Regions from separate parts of the Homo sapiens genome. Here region 1 is linked to region 2. The links come from fine-mapping of genetic effects on gene expression. Tissue or cell type: spinal cord. Region 2 holds a variant in brackets; the other region holds the start of a gene. All regions are shown on one strand. Distances are between the middles of the regions.

What was found. PIP is the estimated chance that this variant, and not a neighbour inherited with it, causes the effect.
Region 1: GLIS1 starts here. The variant in region 2 is fine-mapped to the expression of GLIS1 in spinal cord (GTEx, PIP above 0.99).

Annotation. Positions count from the first base shown.
Region 1 is chr1:53,735,564-53,743,563 of GRCh38, reverse strand. It overlaps GLIS1 (GLIS family zinc finger 1), which reads left to right and starts at 4,400. Exons shown (of 11, transcript NM_001367484.1): 1 at 4,400-4,459; 2 at 5,458-5,758. The coding sequence starts at 5,500. RefSeq lists silencers at 4,051-4,400, 4,411-4,580 and an enhancer at 4,266-4,984.
Region 2 is chr1:53,115,091-53,123,090 of GRCh38, reverse strand. All of the region lies in intron 2 of SLC1A7 (solute carrier family 1 member 7), which reads left to right. LOC105379783 (a long non-coding RNA gene) reads right to left here. Exons shown (of 4, transcript XR_007066089.1): 2 at 7,511-7,779; 3 at 6,859-6,980; 4 at 4,470-4,695. Among named protein-coding and RNA genes, the nearest start is that of SLC1A7, 24 kb to the left of the region's middle. RefSeq lists enhancers at 372-1,171, 1-2,485, 6,929-7,911. The variant C/A (reference allele first, on the strand shown) is at 3,040.

The sequences.
Region 1 (8,000 bases), 620 kb before region 2:
TCACCTGTAAAATAGGGATGATAACCTCTTTATCCAGAGTTGTCAGGATTAAGTGAGGTCACATATGGAGAGTGTCAGCCATGGTACATGGTAGGTTCCCCATGTTAATTCTTCCCTTGCTGCAAGACACAGAGGCAGGGTAAGCAGTGTAACATCGATCACCTCTCTTCCTTCTCCTTCCTCCTATCTCCTGGACACAGGACACCTTAGACACAGAAATGTCTACTTTTACCTCAACCATTTGCTGAGTGAATGCTTACACCCCTGAACAAAGACAGTGAGGAGAGACGTCTTGATAGGGTGGGGAAGCTCTTAGCTAGAAATGTAGGCAAGCAAATGAATTAGTGGTGAGTCTTTAATAATTCAATCAGCATTCAGTAAATATTTACCTACTTTGTGCAGGAATCTCTTCTAGGTTCTGAAGATAGAAAGGCAAAAAGCTGCCCCTGACCTCACAGAGGTCTCATTCTAGAGGGGGGAGACAGGCTGTTACACAGGCAGTTACAAAACTGTAATAAGTTCTCAGATAGAATAAAGCAGAGGATTGTGAAAGTGTGCAGGGAGAAAATAGCTATAGCCCCCTCGAGGATTCAGGGAAGGCTTGTGGGAAGGTGACACTTGGGCTGGGTATGAAATGATTCATAGGAAGAAGTAGGCAAGGTGAATAAGGGGAGAAAATATTAGCATAGGAGAAATCATATACAGAGCTATGAAGGCATGAATATATGTTCCGGATTCTAGGAGATGAAAACTATTCCAAGGTGCTTGGAACATAGGGTAGGGGTGGGAGCAGGGTAAGAAAATGGTTTGATTTTATTTAGATGGCCATTGGGAGCTATGAGATTTAAACAGGGAAGTGCCATGGTCAGATCTATATTTTTATTTATTTATTTATTTACTTATTTATTTAGAGACAGGGTCTCTCTCTGTCACTTAGCCTGGAGTATGGTGGTATGATCATAGCTCACTGCAGTCTCAAACTCCTAGACTCAAGGGATCCTCCACCTCAGCTTCTTGATTAGCTGATAGTATAGGTGCAGGCCACCATGCCTGACTATTTTTTATTTTATTTTTTGTAGAGACAAGGTCTTGCTATGCTGCCCAGTCTGGTCTCCAATTCCTGGCCTCAAGTGATCCTCCTGTCTTGGCCTCCCAAAGTACTGTGATTACAAGTGGGAGCCACTGTGCCCGGCCAGATCTATACTTTAGAGACTGATAAGGAGACCAGTGTGGAAAATCACTAATTAGGAGAAGGATGAGGATGGAGGCAAAAAGAACTTGGAAGAAATGTAGTAGTGAGGATGGAGAGGAGGAGGATTGTTAGTTAAATTTATGACAAGTCAGATATAGGAGTATGGGAGAGGAGGGGCTGAGGATGACTCAGATTTCTGAACTGGGGGAGTTGGCCATAGGGCCATTCACCCAGTTAGGGACATAGGAGTGAGGAGCAACGTCAGAGATGAAAAAATGATGTTCGATTTTGCAGATGGATCCTGATAGAGATATCCAGTAGACAGACTGTGGGAGGGCAGAAGAGAGTGTGAGTTGTAACACGGGTTAGTGTAAAAAGCAGACATTACTGTCTAGCCTGCTAAAGTGAGAAGCAGGTTACTGTGTTTCACTTTATTTTGTTTTTGACAATTAAAATATTAAGGAGTTTTATTTTAATACCAAAAATATAAAGGAAAAAAATGCAGCACATAATCCCACTGCTCAAATAACCCCTATTGAAAGACAGGGAGGGGCCGGGCACAGTGGTTCATGCCTGTAATCCCAGCACTTTGGGAGGCCAAGGTGGGCGGATCACAAGGTCAGGAGTTCGAGACCAGCCTGGCCAATATGGTGAAACCTTGTCTACTAAAAATACGAAAATTAGTCAGGCATGGTGGTGCGCGCCTGTAGTCCCAGCTGCTCTGGAGGCTAAGGCAGAAGAATCACTTGAGTCTGGGAGGCAGAGGTTGCCGTGAGCTGGGATTGTGCCACTGGACTCCAGCCTGGGCAGACAGAGGAGTGAGACTCTGTCTCAAAAAAGAAAAAGAAAACAAAAAAAAAAAAAAAAGAGAGAGAGAGGGAGGATAATATATACTTAGAAAACACAAATCAGTTCAGACAAGTATAAAAATGAAAAGTGCAGGCCTTCCCTCAGTCCTCCATTCCCTTAACCACTGTTAACAGTTTCTTGTGTTTCCTTTGTGGAAAAAAAAAAAAGCATATACCTACTAGATTCTGAGTATCTCCAAAGGGGTTCTGCCATTTACAGTGTTTAAGAGGTCTGTTTTATTGAGCAGATTAAACTTCTCATCACTTTGCCAGCCTTCACAAACCCACCTATTTTGGTCAGGTGGACCTGTGAGCTCACTGAGGGGAAGGGGAGGGGGCGGGTTCTGTGTTTCTGTGTCCCTAGCTCAGGTATAGGGGCTGGCCCAGGGTAAGTGCTCAAAAGAATAATGGAAAGAGCTGTTTCTTCATCTGGAAATTTGGAGGGCCTTTGCTTTCAGGTCCAGTTGGTTAAATGACTCATTCAGCAAACGTTTTCAGAGTCCCGACTAAATGTGCAGCGCAGTGCTTGTTGTGTGTGTGTGTGTTTTGCAGCGGGGCGGCGGGGGGGGGCATTGTGGGGGGTGGAGGGAGGGCAGAGGACTTGGATCCTGGCCTTACTGAAGAGAAGAGCAGAACTAGAAAGGCCAGAGATCTTCCAACTTCATGCCTTTGGAGGGGGGAAGCTGAGGTCCAGAGTGAGGTTACCATTCGTCTAGAGCCACATGGCTTGTTGGCAGCAGAACCAGCTGTGACTCCACAAGAGTATGTGGTGGTGGGGGGTGCAGGCACTGAGTGAGGCGCAACCCTTGGCCTGTGTGTTATGGGCATGGTTGATTTACACCCTCTCCCTGTGAGCAGCAGAGTGGTTGGTACTGAAGGAACAGCATTGCCAGGAGTCAGGAAGCCTGGATCCCGGGGCTCTGCCACCCTCCACCACATTGACACAGGCCAGTCACGTCCTTTCTCCTCTGAATGGAGGGTGGGTCTAACTAAAACCTCAAAGTCTTTCTTACTATTATTACTCTAATTGTTAGATACTATTTTAAACAAATTATAGGAAATCCAATTTTATGATTTTGAAATTCTAAAATCCTGGTTTTCCAGGATTCTGAGGATGCTGCTTGGGGTCGGTTGTTCTGTGCAGAGTCCTGTGCTATGAACTTGACATGTTGTGTAGTCCAGAAGGGCTCCATATACATTTTCCAGTTTGAGACCAAGGTCAAAGAGACCAGACTTCAAAGGAGTTCGAAACCAGTCAGGCCCCTTGGAGCCAGCCCAGACCACCATCAAACAGTGCACAGGAGGCGCCTAGGTGAAATGCAGAAACCATTTCAGGGCTTGGCTGGATCCTTCGGTAGGCATGGCAGGTAGACCAGGCCTAGGCAAACACTGCCATTTTACACGGGAGGACTCAGGCTCAGAGCGGGGAACTGAGCCATTGCCTGCAGGCTCTGTGAAGCCTTACTGTTCTTTGTCCCGTGCTCTTCCTACACGTTGGGCAGGGCCCCCTGAGACACTGCGTGCTGTCTGTGGGGGAATCCCAGAAGGCAGGACAACAGAGTAGACCCCTAGAGTGGGTCTCAATCCCCAGATCTGTAAGGATCTCCTGGGAGCTCGCTAAAAGCCTAAGTGCTGGGGGCCTATTCCCCAAGACTCAATTGGAATATTTCCTAGTTGGGATCAGGCACCATTTTTTTATCTTTAACTTCAGAGTTTGAGACCTTTTACCCTGGACTCTTTCCGGCGGAAAACACAAAAACAAACGTAAGAAAGTGGGCTGAGAGGCCTGGGTTTGGGTCCCAAATTTGCTGCCCACTAGCTGTGAAATCTCTGCAAATTCTCCAGTGAGAGGGTTGGATTCTGCAAGAAAACTTTTCAAGCACTTTCGCATCTGTCCGCTTCGCGTTAGCAGACAGCGTCGTTCCCATCTGACGGAGGGGAAAACCGACCGGGAGAAGGGAGGATCCTGCCCGGGGCTAGTGGAGAGGCGGGCAGGGAGCCGGGTTCAGCCCGGCACTCCTCACGCCCAGCGCACTCCGCCGACCCCCGAGCCCAGCCTCTCTCGCCGCGGCGCCGCCCCGCCGTCCTGCCCGGCTCGGCCGTCTGAGAACAGCGGGCAGCGCGGGGATCCAGCCGGCCGCCGCCTGTCAAACCCTCTGCTCAGCCCCGCGTCGGGCCCCGCCCAGACCCCCAGGGGGGGATGCCCCGCCCTCGCGCCGCGATTGGCCTGAGCCGGGCGGCCGCGGCCAGCCAGTGGCTGGAGCGGCTGTTGGGCAGACGCGGGCCCGCCCCCGTCCCCCGGGGAACCGCCCCGCAGGACGCGGCGGCGGCGGCGGCGGCTGCGGCGGCTGCGGGGGCTGCTGCGCCAGTGGAGGCGCGCCGAGCCGGGCGCCCAGCGATCTGCAGCTGCCGCTGCGAGGTGAGAGGGGGCGCGGCCCGCGGCCGAGGGAGGGGCGTGTGCGGGGCCCGAGATCCGAGGCTGGCGTCCCGGCGACGCTCGAACCCCGGCAGCTTGGGGATGGCGCAGGGAGCGCGGAGGGGAACGGAGAGTTTGGGGGCCCCTGATGGAAGGGCTGAGGGAGGCTCTGTCGCGGCCCCCATCGCACGCGCGTGTGGCGAGAGCGTGGGACTGTGTGGTTGTGCGCTGCTGAGCGTCTGACCAGCGGCAGTGTGGGTGGCGTGTCCGTCCCCGGGCGTGCCTCGGCGGGTGTGCGGGTGTGTGGCGGCGGCCGCGTGGGCATTGCCCACTGTGCCGGTTTGCGCGCGCGACGGGCTCGATTCCTCCGCTGCGCATAGGAATGTGGGTGTCCCGGCTGCGCGTGATGGGTTCGCGTCGCAGGATTCAGCGCCCAGCTTGGGACTCCTGTTTTCCAGGTTCGGGTGGTCGCGGGTGAGTCTCTGGGGGTTTCCCTCGGGCCTTTGGGTTCGGGTCCCCAGCTTCTGCGCGCAGCTCGGCCCCGGAGAGTCGACGAAGCGCGCAGCCCGTGACCTACCCGGAGCCGTCTCCGGGGCTTCGCCCGAGCCCTGCTCTGGGAATCCTCGTTGCCGCCGGCTCCGTGTTCCACTGGGGGACGCGGAACAGGCGCCTTACCCGCTCCAGGCCTCAGTTTCACCATTCGTGCAAAGGAGGCTGGTTTCGGTGGAGGAGGATTTGGGTGGGACTTCGCGGTAATGCGCCGCGGCGCGGGGGCCTGGGGTCCTCCCCACACCAGGGAAGGGCGAACCGCTCCTGAGCGAGGGGGCTTTTGCGTGGAATCAGGTGGGTTTGACCTCTGATTGGGCTAGGTGTCGTGGTGCTAACCTATGTTAAAGACGCGCAATCCACCGAAGGGGCAGTGACCTGCTCAAACTCGGCCCCGGGACAATACGGGGGCCGCTTTCCGCATTCTAACTGGCTGTGCTGTCTCCCCTCCCCAGGAGCCCGGCGCGACCCCCAGCCGTGCGCCCCGCCCCGGCGCCATGCATTGCGAGGTGGCTGAGGCACACTCGGACAAGAGGCCTAAGGAGGCCCCTGGTGCGCCCGGCCCCGACCGCGGCCCCGCCAGCCTCGGCGCGCACATGGCCTTCAGGGTCACCGTGAGTGGCGGCGGCTGCGGGGACAGGGGCCCGCGGGACCTGCTAGCCCGGCCGCCTGCGCCGCCACCGCGCGCCCACGACCTCCTCCGGCCCCGCAGTCCCCGAGACTACGGTCCATCCAAGGCCGCCGCCGCCGGGAAGGGTGAGTTCGGCCCTGCCAACGTGCCTGGCGGCTCCTGTGGAGATTCGGGCTGCCCGGCGTCGCCACCGCGTGCTCGGGAGAGCTTGGTGGAACTTTCTTCGGAGTTCCTCAGTTTCTCTCTTATTGTTTGGGACTAGCTTGTCAGTGTGAAAGTATGCCTGCTTTGCGAAGCATCTAATTTAAATTCAATTAGCCCCGTTTGGGGAAATGTGTTTATAGAAAGCTCTCAGCTTACATAATTTTGCTTCTGTGTGTTTCTGATAAAGCTTGCATAGAAACTTGTCAAAATTTTATTATACATGAGGGCGAATAGCAACGCATATATTGGTATCTGTTTCTGAGCAGCTCAAGGCATAGTTTGAAGTATTTCAATCTCCTCAGCTGACAAAACCCAGAGGCCTTTAGCAAGACCCCTCTCCTTTTGGGACCTCAGTTTCCCCATCTGTCAAGTGAGGAATTAATTAAACCAGATGATTTCTGGATTCCTGATGGAAAATTTTCTGCATCAGCAATCCAGCCTAGTCACGTCCTAACTTAAACATGGCTTTTCTGTACTTGGTGCTTCGGCAGCCTAGTCTTGGGTCACAAGCTCCTTGGCAAGTCCCTTCGTCCCCCAGTGAAGCTGGCCACGGGAAGGTGGGGGTCCCAGTATGGCTTATGGGCTCAAAGTCGGAGATGGTGCTGGGATTTTCAGGAACATGCTCTTCTCATCACAGTTAATTATTATTGAGTCATTATTTATGAGTTTCGTGCTGACAGATAATTAACCAGGAATTGGAGAAATTGTTAAGATGCTGTGTCCTCGTCCTCCCCCCTTTTTTTTTCCCTTAGGGGAAACCAAGGCTTTGGGGTTTGACTATATCTGCATTTGGAACCTCTTGGTTCTCATTCCAGATGATTCTCAAGGAAGACAAAAACAGTTTGGGTTTTACGGTTATAGGCATCACTTCCTAGCATCAGCCTCACAACTCGGAAGGGGTAGGCAGCCTACTTTTAGAGTTGAGAGCTCCTTGTGGATCAAAAACACCCAACTCCCTGGTTCAGGGATTAGTAAAATGAAATAAACATAAGTAGTTTTTTTCTTTTTTGAAGAAAACACTTGACTTTGTAAGAGAGAACTACTTCTCATCTCCTTGTTTTAGATGCCAGCCTCTTTTTCAAGGGATAGAGATAATATTTTAGAAGGACAGATACAGTGGGGAGGGGCGGGAAATGCCTGCTGAGTGTTATTGCTGGAATACACACATATGAGGTCTCTTTTACCAGAGAGGAGCGCTGCGCAGCGAGACATGAGTAATGTTTGCTGCCGGGAGCTCCCTGGCTTGCCCCGCTCCATACACAATCCTCCCTTAAATAGATACCCTCCTGCAACGTTCTGTGTTTAAAAAAATCATGGCTGTCCTCTGAAGATCGAGTTCTCTGCAGACCTAGCAAACAGCTCTCCCGAACATAATCTTTGTTCCACGCTATGGTGAGACCTTTCACCTGGGGGCTTTGTGTACGATCTTCCTACTTCCATTCCCCCTAACCCCAGTTATTTTTACGCACGCCCCCAAACATGTCCAAAATAAAAGATCTTTAAGTCAGGATTCCATTTGGAAAGGGCAGAGGAGAATAAAGGGATGGGAGGAAGAGCCTCTTTCTTTGTACCTTAAGCTGGTCTCTCTGGTGAAGCTTTTTTCCAAGAGGTTTCACAACTTTTCTTCATAGCCTCCCAGTGAGGCTGTTGTGGTGGGATGTATCCCACTCATTTGAAGGGTGAGGAAACTGAGGCCTGAAGGTGGGAAAGTGTTTGGTATGTGTAGGGCAGTGGTTAGGGAAGCCACAGCTCTGGCCTAACCTGGCCTAGGGAGAAAGGGAAGGCTCAGGGTCCTGGGCTTGGAGAGGTTTCCCTGCTGGCCTCTGTGTTGCTATAGGCAAGCTTTTCCTCACAGTGCAGTCACCAAGTGGCCCGAGACAAACCCAGCTTTCCCCCAGTTCTTCAGCGTCCTTAAAAATGCTGCGAGGAAACGGCACCTTCTTACTGCCCCTACTCCCACCGAAATAGTCCCAGACCATGTAACCCTTTGAATATTTGGTGTCTAGCTCCAAGTTCTCAGGCTTATTGGAAACAGACAGAAATACCAATTGAAAAATATGTATTGACTGTGCTGGGAATTGTGAGACCCCACCATCTATGATCTGTGGCACTTGGGGGAATCGATTTTACTCTTCTGAGCCTTTGGTTCCTTCGTTTGTAAAT
Region 2 (8,000 bases):
CCTCCAGCTTCTGCTTTTGATCCAGTTCAAGCTTATCATTCTCACAGGTCCCAGTGGAGCGCCCTCTTGGCACCCAGGCCTGGGAAGGAGGGACCTTCAGAGGGCAGCAGGGCATGCCAGGGTAGCAGCACCCACCGCCCACACTCTGAGCCCCACACTCTCTCCCACCTTCCCTCCATGGAAATCAAGGTGGAGGCCAAGAGGTTTGGTCCATGTGGCTCCAGAGGGCTGGCTGGGCCCAGTGTGGCCCAATGCTCTTCCCCGGAGGCGGATTTCATTGTGACACCAGGAAGGACTTCCTAATAAGCATCACGAGCTCTTAGTGGAGGGGCTGACTCAGAAGGTAGTGAGTGCTCTGTCCTCTGAGATATGCAAGCAGAGGTGGTGGAGGAATTTCTGCCCTTGGGAGGGTGTGCTGAGACGAGATGGCCCAGACTTTAGCTGAGTGGGAGTCTGGGCATGCTGCCTTAGGCCTCAGGAGGAGTCGGCTTGAGTGTGGGGCTTTGGCAGAGCCGTCTGGGAAGCATGACTTGGAGCTGGCGCTAATGGGCATGGCACTGGCTGTCAGCTGTTGGGCCTGCCTTCTGCTCAGGGGAAAAGAAGAGTAAGCCATGATGCTCAGATGGACTGAAGGGACCCCTCTTGCCCGCAGACCCCCGAAGCCTCCTTCCTGCGGCCTGTCTGGTAGACTTCCTGCAGCTGCATCCCAGGGCCAGCTGGGGAGAGCCTCTGTGGCTAGGTCAGCCAAGGCCAGAGCCCAAGGACTTGGCTGCAGGGCTTGGGGCTCCTCACTGTCCCTCAGGTCCTCCCACTGCCAGGAGGTTGTGACTGGATGCTGTCATGCCAGCAGACTAGGGCTTGAACCCACTTATTGTGTGACTTTAGCAAGTTGCTTGCACACCTCCAGTGACTGGGAGGTCACCACTTCTCAAGGTAGTTCCTGCCAGAGCAGGACAGCTCTGCCAGAAAGTTATTCCTGGTGCTGAGCTGAGAGCCCTAGGGCTTTTCCCATCATCCCCAGCATTCCCAGGTCTGCTCCGCTCCGGACCACACAGCACCTGCCCCCCAGCCCCCCAGCTGCTCCCCGCAACCAGGCACGTGCCTCTATCACCTGCTGCCTACCCAGCTGCCCTCTACAGGACACACACACCCCGCCCCGTCCCTTTCTCAATGAGTCAAAGCAGGTCTGCAGCAGCCTCCACCAGCCCCCGGGCTTCTGAAGCCACAGGCAGGGGGCCCACCAGCCCTTTGGCAGCCCCGCGTCCCAGGTGACTCACCAGCTGGCAGCAAACAAAGCCCAAAGTCCCCTCCCCACGTGTGCAGCCACGGCTCAGCCTCCCCCTCCCACCCCGGTGTTTGTGCACTCCAAGCTGTGGAAGCCAAGTGCGGCCCAACACATGTCTGTGTTCAGGCTCATTGTGTCAGAATTGACTGCTGGGGTCTGCTTGGATTCCCAACTCCCTCATCCAGCACATTAGCTATTCCTCCCAGCTTCCTGTCCTCTACAAATCTGCTCCACATGCTGTCGGGGGCCTTGGCCAAGCCATTGATTAAAATGACCAGAAAGGAGAGGGCCGAAAGCAGAGTCCTGAAGCTGATCTCTAGACACCCTCTCTACTGCCCAGGACATTCAGCTCCTTGTCCCTTCACCAAGCCCCCATCTCTTCCCAGATTTCTGGTGCCAACTGTCTCGATGTCACACAGACACACAACACCGTGGGCATTCCCCTAAGCCCATCCGGGGACCAAGGCTGGTACTGGTGATCTGTTCTCAGGAAACCTTCAATGGCTGCTCAGTCACCTGGGCACACAAGTCGTCCTTTTCACGTCTGATCTAGAATGTCACCCTGGTTCAGCATCACACACATCAGCAACCCTGCACCCAGGCCTGTGCCAGACCTTGGGTTTTAAGGACCTAGAGCCAAACTAGACTTAGCCTTGCCTTGGAGGAGTTCCAGTCTGCTGGGACAGGTGGTCACAGACAGACAGTGAAGACAGAGGAAATTATAACAATTGAAATGCAGTGCGTACTTATCACATGCCATGTACCACTCCAACCCAAGATTTGGCCTCACAGCAAACCGGCATCATCCGCACTCATCCTCAGTGGAAACTGAGGCACACCCAGGCCCAGTCACATGCCCAAGGGCTCGCAGTGAGTGAGGGATGCTTACGGGAGCTTCCTCGCCTTGCCTAGGGCCAGGGCAGCCTTCAGAGGGCGGTGGTGCCTGAGTGGAGACTTCAGAGCTGAGCAGCATCCACAGGACAGGAAAGGAGAAGAAGGCGGGGACTGGGCTCCCGGCACTCCGTGCCAGCCCGTCCTGTGCCAGGTGCTGGGTCAGGCCCTGGGGATTCGGGTTGAGCCCACTAGCAGGGTGCTCCGTAACAAACTGGGAAGCACAGGGTGCCCTGGGGAAGTGGGTGAGATGGCTGCAGTCAGGGAAGGCTTCCCAGAGGCAGTGATGTCTAAGCTGACCCAGGGTTGGGGACATTGGGCCAGGGTTGGGGAAGGGATGGTGGATGGAGAGTTCCAGGCGGGAGGAACATCCAGTGCAAAGGTACTTCCAGGAGCAGAGTGGACGAGGAGGAGAGCGGCCCAGCCCCAGGGGACGCAGGGCAGGGAAGGAGCTGGGATGGTTGCGGAGGGCAATGGGGAGTCACCCCAAACTGGGGGAGGGGCATCCGGCAGCTGGGCAGCCTGCAGGCTCTCTTGGCTCTCTCTGTAGGGAGGTGCGACTACAACTTCGACTTCGTGGGGGCGTGGTTTCTAATCCCTCACCTTTGTAACCAGCGCTTGGCAAATGGCAGAGCTGCCCTGCACCTCCCAGTGTGAGATGGGGTCAGGAGTCCCACCTCAGGGGTTGGTGCGAGAACCAGGGGAGGGTCAGTCAGCAGCCTTTTTCTCCTTCCACCGGGAGCCTGGCAGTCTTTGCCTCCCTTCCCCCACCCCTGCAAGTGGAGCAATTACCAGATTGAGACAGGCTGGGCCTTCCCACTGCCTCTGCGGGTTAATGTCTCTAATCACTGCAATCTCTTGAT[C/A]CACAATCCCTGGGCTCTGAGTGGTGGCCAGATGGCTTAGGAGGGAGTTCCAGCCTCCAGACTCCCAGAGGCTCTTCCCTGGGGCCCTCAAACACCGCAGGTGCTCCCAGGAGCACCCAGCCAAGCGTGGTGTGGGAGAGAGGTGGTTGCCTATTCTCCCCTCACCATAAATCACAGAGCCAGAAGGAATGTTTGAAGTCATCCTCATGGAACCTCCCACTCTATCTGGAAGCCTCCATCTAGCATCTCAACAGGTGGCCATCCAGGATCCACCTGGATGCCTCCAACAATGGGAAGCTCACCACCACAAATCTGAGGCTCATTACCAAGGGCAGGCTGTGAACTCCGAGATTGAACTAAAATGGCTTTACATGGGCTGGATCACATTAAAATCATAGTCAGCTGGGCTGGGTGGCTCACACCTGTAATCCCAGCACTTTGGGAGGTGAAGACAGGAGGATCATTTGGGCTCAGGAGTTCCAGACCAGATTGGGCATCATCAAGATACCCCCATCTCTACTAAAAATTTTTAAAAATTAGCCAGGCATGGTGTCGAGTGCCTGTAGTCCCAGCTACTTGGGAGGCTGATGTGAGAGAATCATTTGAGCCTAGGAGGTCAAGGCTGCAGTGAGCCATGATCGTGCCACTGAGCCCCAGCCTGGGCAACAGAGTGAAACCCTGTTTCAAAGAATTAATAAAAAATAAAATCATAGCCCAAACCAGATCTTTTCCCCCACCACCAGAGTTAAACCAGGTTTGTGCCACAGACAGGCACTGTGGGAGTGGGAACCCCACAAGGTTCTGAATCAGAAATCCCTGTTCCAATCTTGACATTATGGTTCACCAACTGGAGGGCCTGGCCAGTTGCCTCCATCTCCCTGTGCTCCATTTTCCCCATCTGTAACTCAGAACTATTGTATTGGGCTGTCCAATACAACAGCCACGAGTCAGAGGAGGCCTCTGAGACCCAAAAGCAGGCAGTGCAACTGAGGAACTGAACTTTTATTTAATTTAATTTAAAATTTAAAACCTGAAGCAATATAAATTTTTTTTTGAAACGGAGTTTCACTCTTGTTGCTCAGGATGGAGTGCAATGGCGTGGCCTCAGCTCACTGCAACCTCTGCCTCCCAGGTTCAAGCGATTCTCCTGCCTCAGCCTCCCAAGAAGCTAGGATTACAGGCATGCGCCACCACACCTGGCTAATTTTGTATTTTTAGTAGAGATGGGGCTTCACCGTGTTGGTCAGGCTGGTCTCGAACTCCTGACCTCAGGTGATCCACCTGTCTCAGCCTCCCAAAGTGCTGGGATTATAGGCATGAGCCACCGTGCCTGGCCTAAAAATTTTTATATTGATGACATATTGAAATGATAATATTTGGGATAAACTAGGTTAAATAAAGTATTAAACTTAATTTCACCAAAAAACTAATTTCACCTGTTTCTTTTTACTTTTTAATGTGACCACTAGAAAATTCTAAATTACAAATGTGGCTCGCAGTGGAACTCCACAGTGCTTCACTCAGAAGGTTAAGGATCCACTGGGCTGGGTGTTCAGGTGTCTGGGGAACAGTAAAGTCCCAGAGAGATGATGGCTTCTGAGGCTGCTGGGTCCTCCAGGAGGTGTCATCTCCATCACACAAGAAGACGGGCTCAATCTAGAAAGAATAGAGAATGTGAAGGACTATTCGAAACAAAACAAAAATTACTTATAACACCCAAAGATAATAATTACATTTCCTATAGAGTTTGCTTGTTTCCGTGCCCGTCCACGCGACCTGGTCTCCCACCACCACTGGGCACCAGCTGCAAGTTCTCAGAAAAGTCACCTTTAACAGCTTGACCTTGAAGCCTGGGACCTTGAGGAGCCTCAGCAGGGAGGAATCCCTCAAAAAGCCAAAGGGCAGGGCCTTACACCTCCTTTCTGTGCCTGTGAGCTCTGAGTGGAAGCCACGACCTCTGCATGCCCAGCTCCCATTCTTCTTGGCCTCCGCCCTCACCTGCGGTGGCCCTGGCACTCCGGGGGAGGCTGGCCTGTGCTGCCAGCTGTCACCAGCAGTTCCCGCGGCTGCTCACCTCTCCCTTCCGCCATTTGTGGGAAGGGAGGGAGGCTCCAGCACAGAACGACTTGGGTCCCAGGATTCTCTCCATTTCGTCCATGGGTGCTCTCCTGTCCAGAGCTGATGGGGGCCCCAGGGTGGGGTCAGGGATCCCTCTTGCTCTGTCTAAAACCTACACTCCCTCCCACATCTCAATCTGTCCCTGAGTTGGCGCCACCCCCGTGTTAGGCCTCTTCGTCCCCGGTGGGGGGCCTTCTGAGGGGCCTTTATCCTTTCCTGAAATCCAGTCCTCACCTGCACCCCACTCCACACAATCCCTCAGACACATCTATGTGCCTAGACTGCAAATCTGGAGGGAGTCCACCATCCCAGGAGGTTCCAGGGCTCACTGCAGAGATGCAAACAATCTGGTAACTTGCTTTTCCACTTAGCATTGATTTAGGAACACCCTTCCAGGGACACGATCACTCCGGATGGCTGCTATACCGTCCCTTCCTATCTAATCTGCATTGGTGAGTTCTTAGGTCAGGTTTTTGATCTTACAAGTACTACTTCAGTGACCCTCCCAGTACACCATGTGTACTTTGATCTTCTCAAATGGAAGGAATTTTTCGTTCTCCCTTCTAGACATCCAGCAAATTCTGCTGCCTGAGTTGTGCTGAAGTGCCACAAGGCCACCCTACTCCTGAGCTCAGCCTATCTTCTCTATCCCTTCTATCACCAATCTGTCACTAACCCTCAGATATTACCTGAGCTCGGGCCACATCGAACAGCACGGTGTCTCACACTTTCCAGCCTCCCTTCTGCCTTCCACTGTCTCACTGCTGCGCATGTCTGCCCCATCTCCAAATCCTCTCCCATTTCCAAGAGCCAGGTCAAATGCCACCTCCTCCAGGGAGCCCTTCCTGACTTTCCTAGCTCGAAGTGATTCCCCCTTCTCTGAACAAAGACAGCATTTCCTTGTCCCCGCTTCCCTTGCGGTTCTGATGCTCCCACATAGTCCAGGGGCCATTTGAGTGCACTTGTGGCCCAGTGTCCTTTCCTTCTCCCTCCCCATTCCCTGGCAGATTAGGAACTCCTTGAGGTCAGGGACAGGTTCTGATTTCTTCCTGTGGGCACAGGGCATGGCACGGAGTGGGCATGTGCGAAAGGTTTGAATGCACGTGAATGAAGGAGGACAGGCCTGGGTCTGGCCCTGAGTTCTGGCCCAGCCGGGCACTGCTGTCCTGTGTGACCTCAGGCAGGGCCTGCTCTCGGGTACATGGCTTCCCTGTGGCCTGAGGCGGCTGGACCCCACTGCGGGGGGTTCTGTCATGGTGGGAGGACTGTTTGGCCCTGGGTTGACGCACCGGCCCTGCGTGGGATAATCTCTCTTTGATGATGATTGCAGGGCAGCCCCCCATTTCCTCTGGCTGCACAATCCCATTATGAGCCCTTCAGGATTTATGTCTAAGACCCACCCTAAGCCCATCACTAACATATGGCATCCTGGCAGATGAGGATGAGCAGAGATTGTAAACACTCATTCATTCATTCACTCACTCCTTCACTCAGCAGTCTGCTACCAAACTGCGGACCCAGCATTCAATCAGAACCTGGCCCAACCCTGGAGGTGCTTCCAGTAAAGAGTCCGCAGTCCAGTGAGGTGGGGGCAGGGACAGTGGGAGGCACAGGGACTGTGGAGCCAGAGAAGGAGGCTTCACTCAGCCTGGTGGTCAGAGACGGCTTCCTGCAAGAGGGGATGCTCAAAGTGTGTCTTACCAGAAGAGTAAGCCATTGCGCCAGCGAGCAGGCAGGGCAGGGCCCTCACAGGCGGTGGCTCCCGCTGGGGGAGGGGGCCGGTGTTCACGCTCAGCCTGGGGCTGGATGCTGCTGCATGGAATCTAATGATAAGAGGAGCGTGGCTGGGGATTATCTGCTCTTGTTTACATGATTAAAACCAGACAAATACTTCTTTATCTGAAAGAATGAAAGGGCTTTGGGGAAAAATCCTTTTGTCAACAAAGCAAAGCACAAGCATTTCCTTAATTAATCTCACTTCACCCCACACCCCCCACCGTCCCACACCCCCCACAATGGCTGCAAGAAGCGTTGCTCTAGGGCTCCAGGGCTCCAGGGCTCCAGGACGCCAGTACTCTGGGGCTGACCTGCACTGGTAGGCAGAAAGCCCAGGCCAGGGTGGCTAGGGGTGGGGAGGAGCCGAGAGGAGAGAGACCCACAGCCCTCTCAACACAGCCCCCTGTGACAAGGAGCCTGGGCCCAGGCACAAACCCAAGATGTCCCCATTTTACAGATGGAGATCCTGAGGCCCAAAGATGGGGAAGTGACTTGCTTGCCTGAGGCCACACAGCCAGTTGGCAGAGCTGGGACTAGGACCTGGGTCACCAGCCCCCAGCCCAGCGCTCTCACTCACTCCTCATTAGCTCGTCCAGGAGCCCGCAGGAACCGCCTGCGGTGCCGTCCTCTCGGGACCCACAGGGAAGTCAGACTCATCCCTCCTCTCACAAACAGACAGGCAGCGTCCTGATGGAGCAGCCAGGGGCTGTGGGGGTCCTAGAATGGGCTCCTCACTCTGGGGGAGAGGCAGGTAGATCTCAGAGGTAGACCAAGCTTGGTCCTGCCTGGCTGGGCAGGGGTCAGGAGAGTGAAGGAAGCTTCTGAGAGGACACCAAGCATGGGAAACTTGAGGCAACAAAGTAAAGCACACGCATTTCCTTAATTAATCTCTCACTCCCCCAACAGTGTCCCCACCATCCCACAGCCACCCTGGCCTGGGCTCTCTGCCTAGCAGTGCAGAGGTCTCAAGGCACAGATGTGTGTGGCCTGCGCCCCGGGGCGTGGGGGAGAGGGCAGAGCAGAAAGAGAGGCTGGAAGGAGCACAGGACTGGATTGTTGGAAGAATG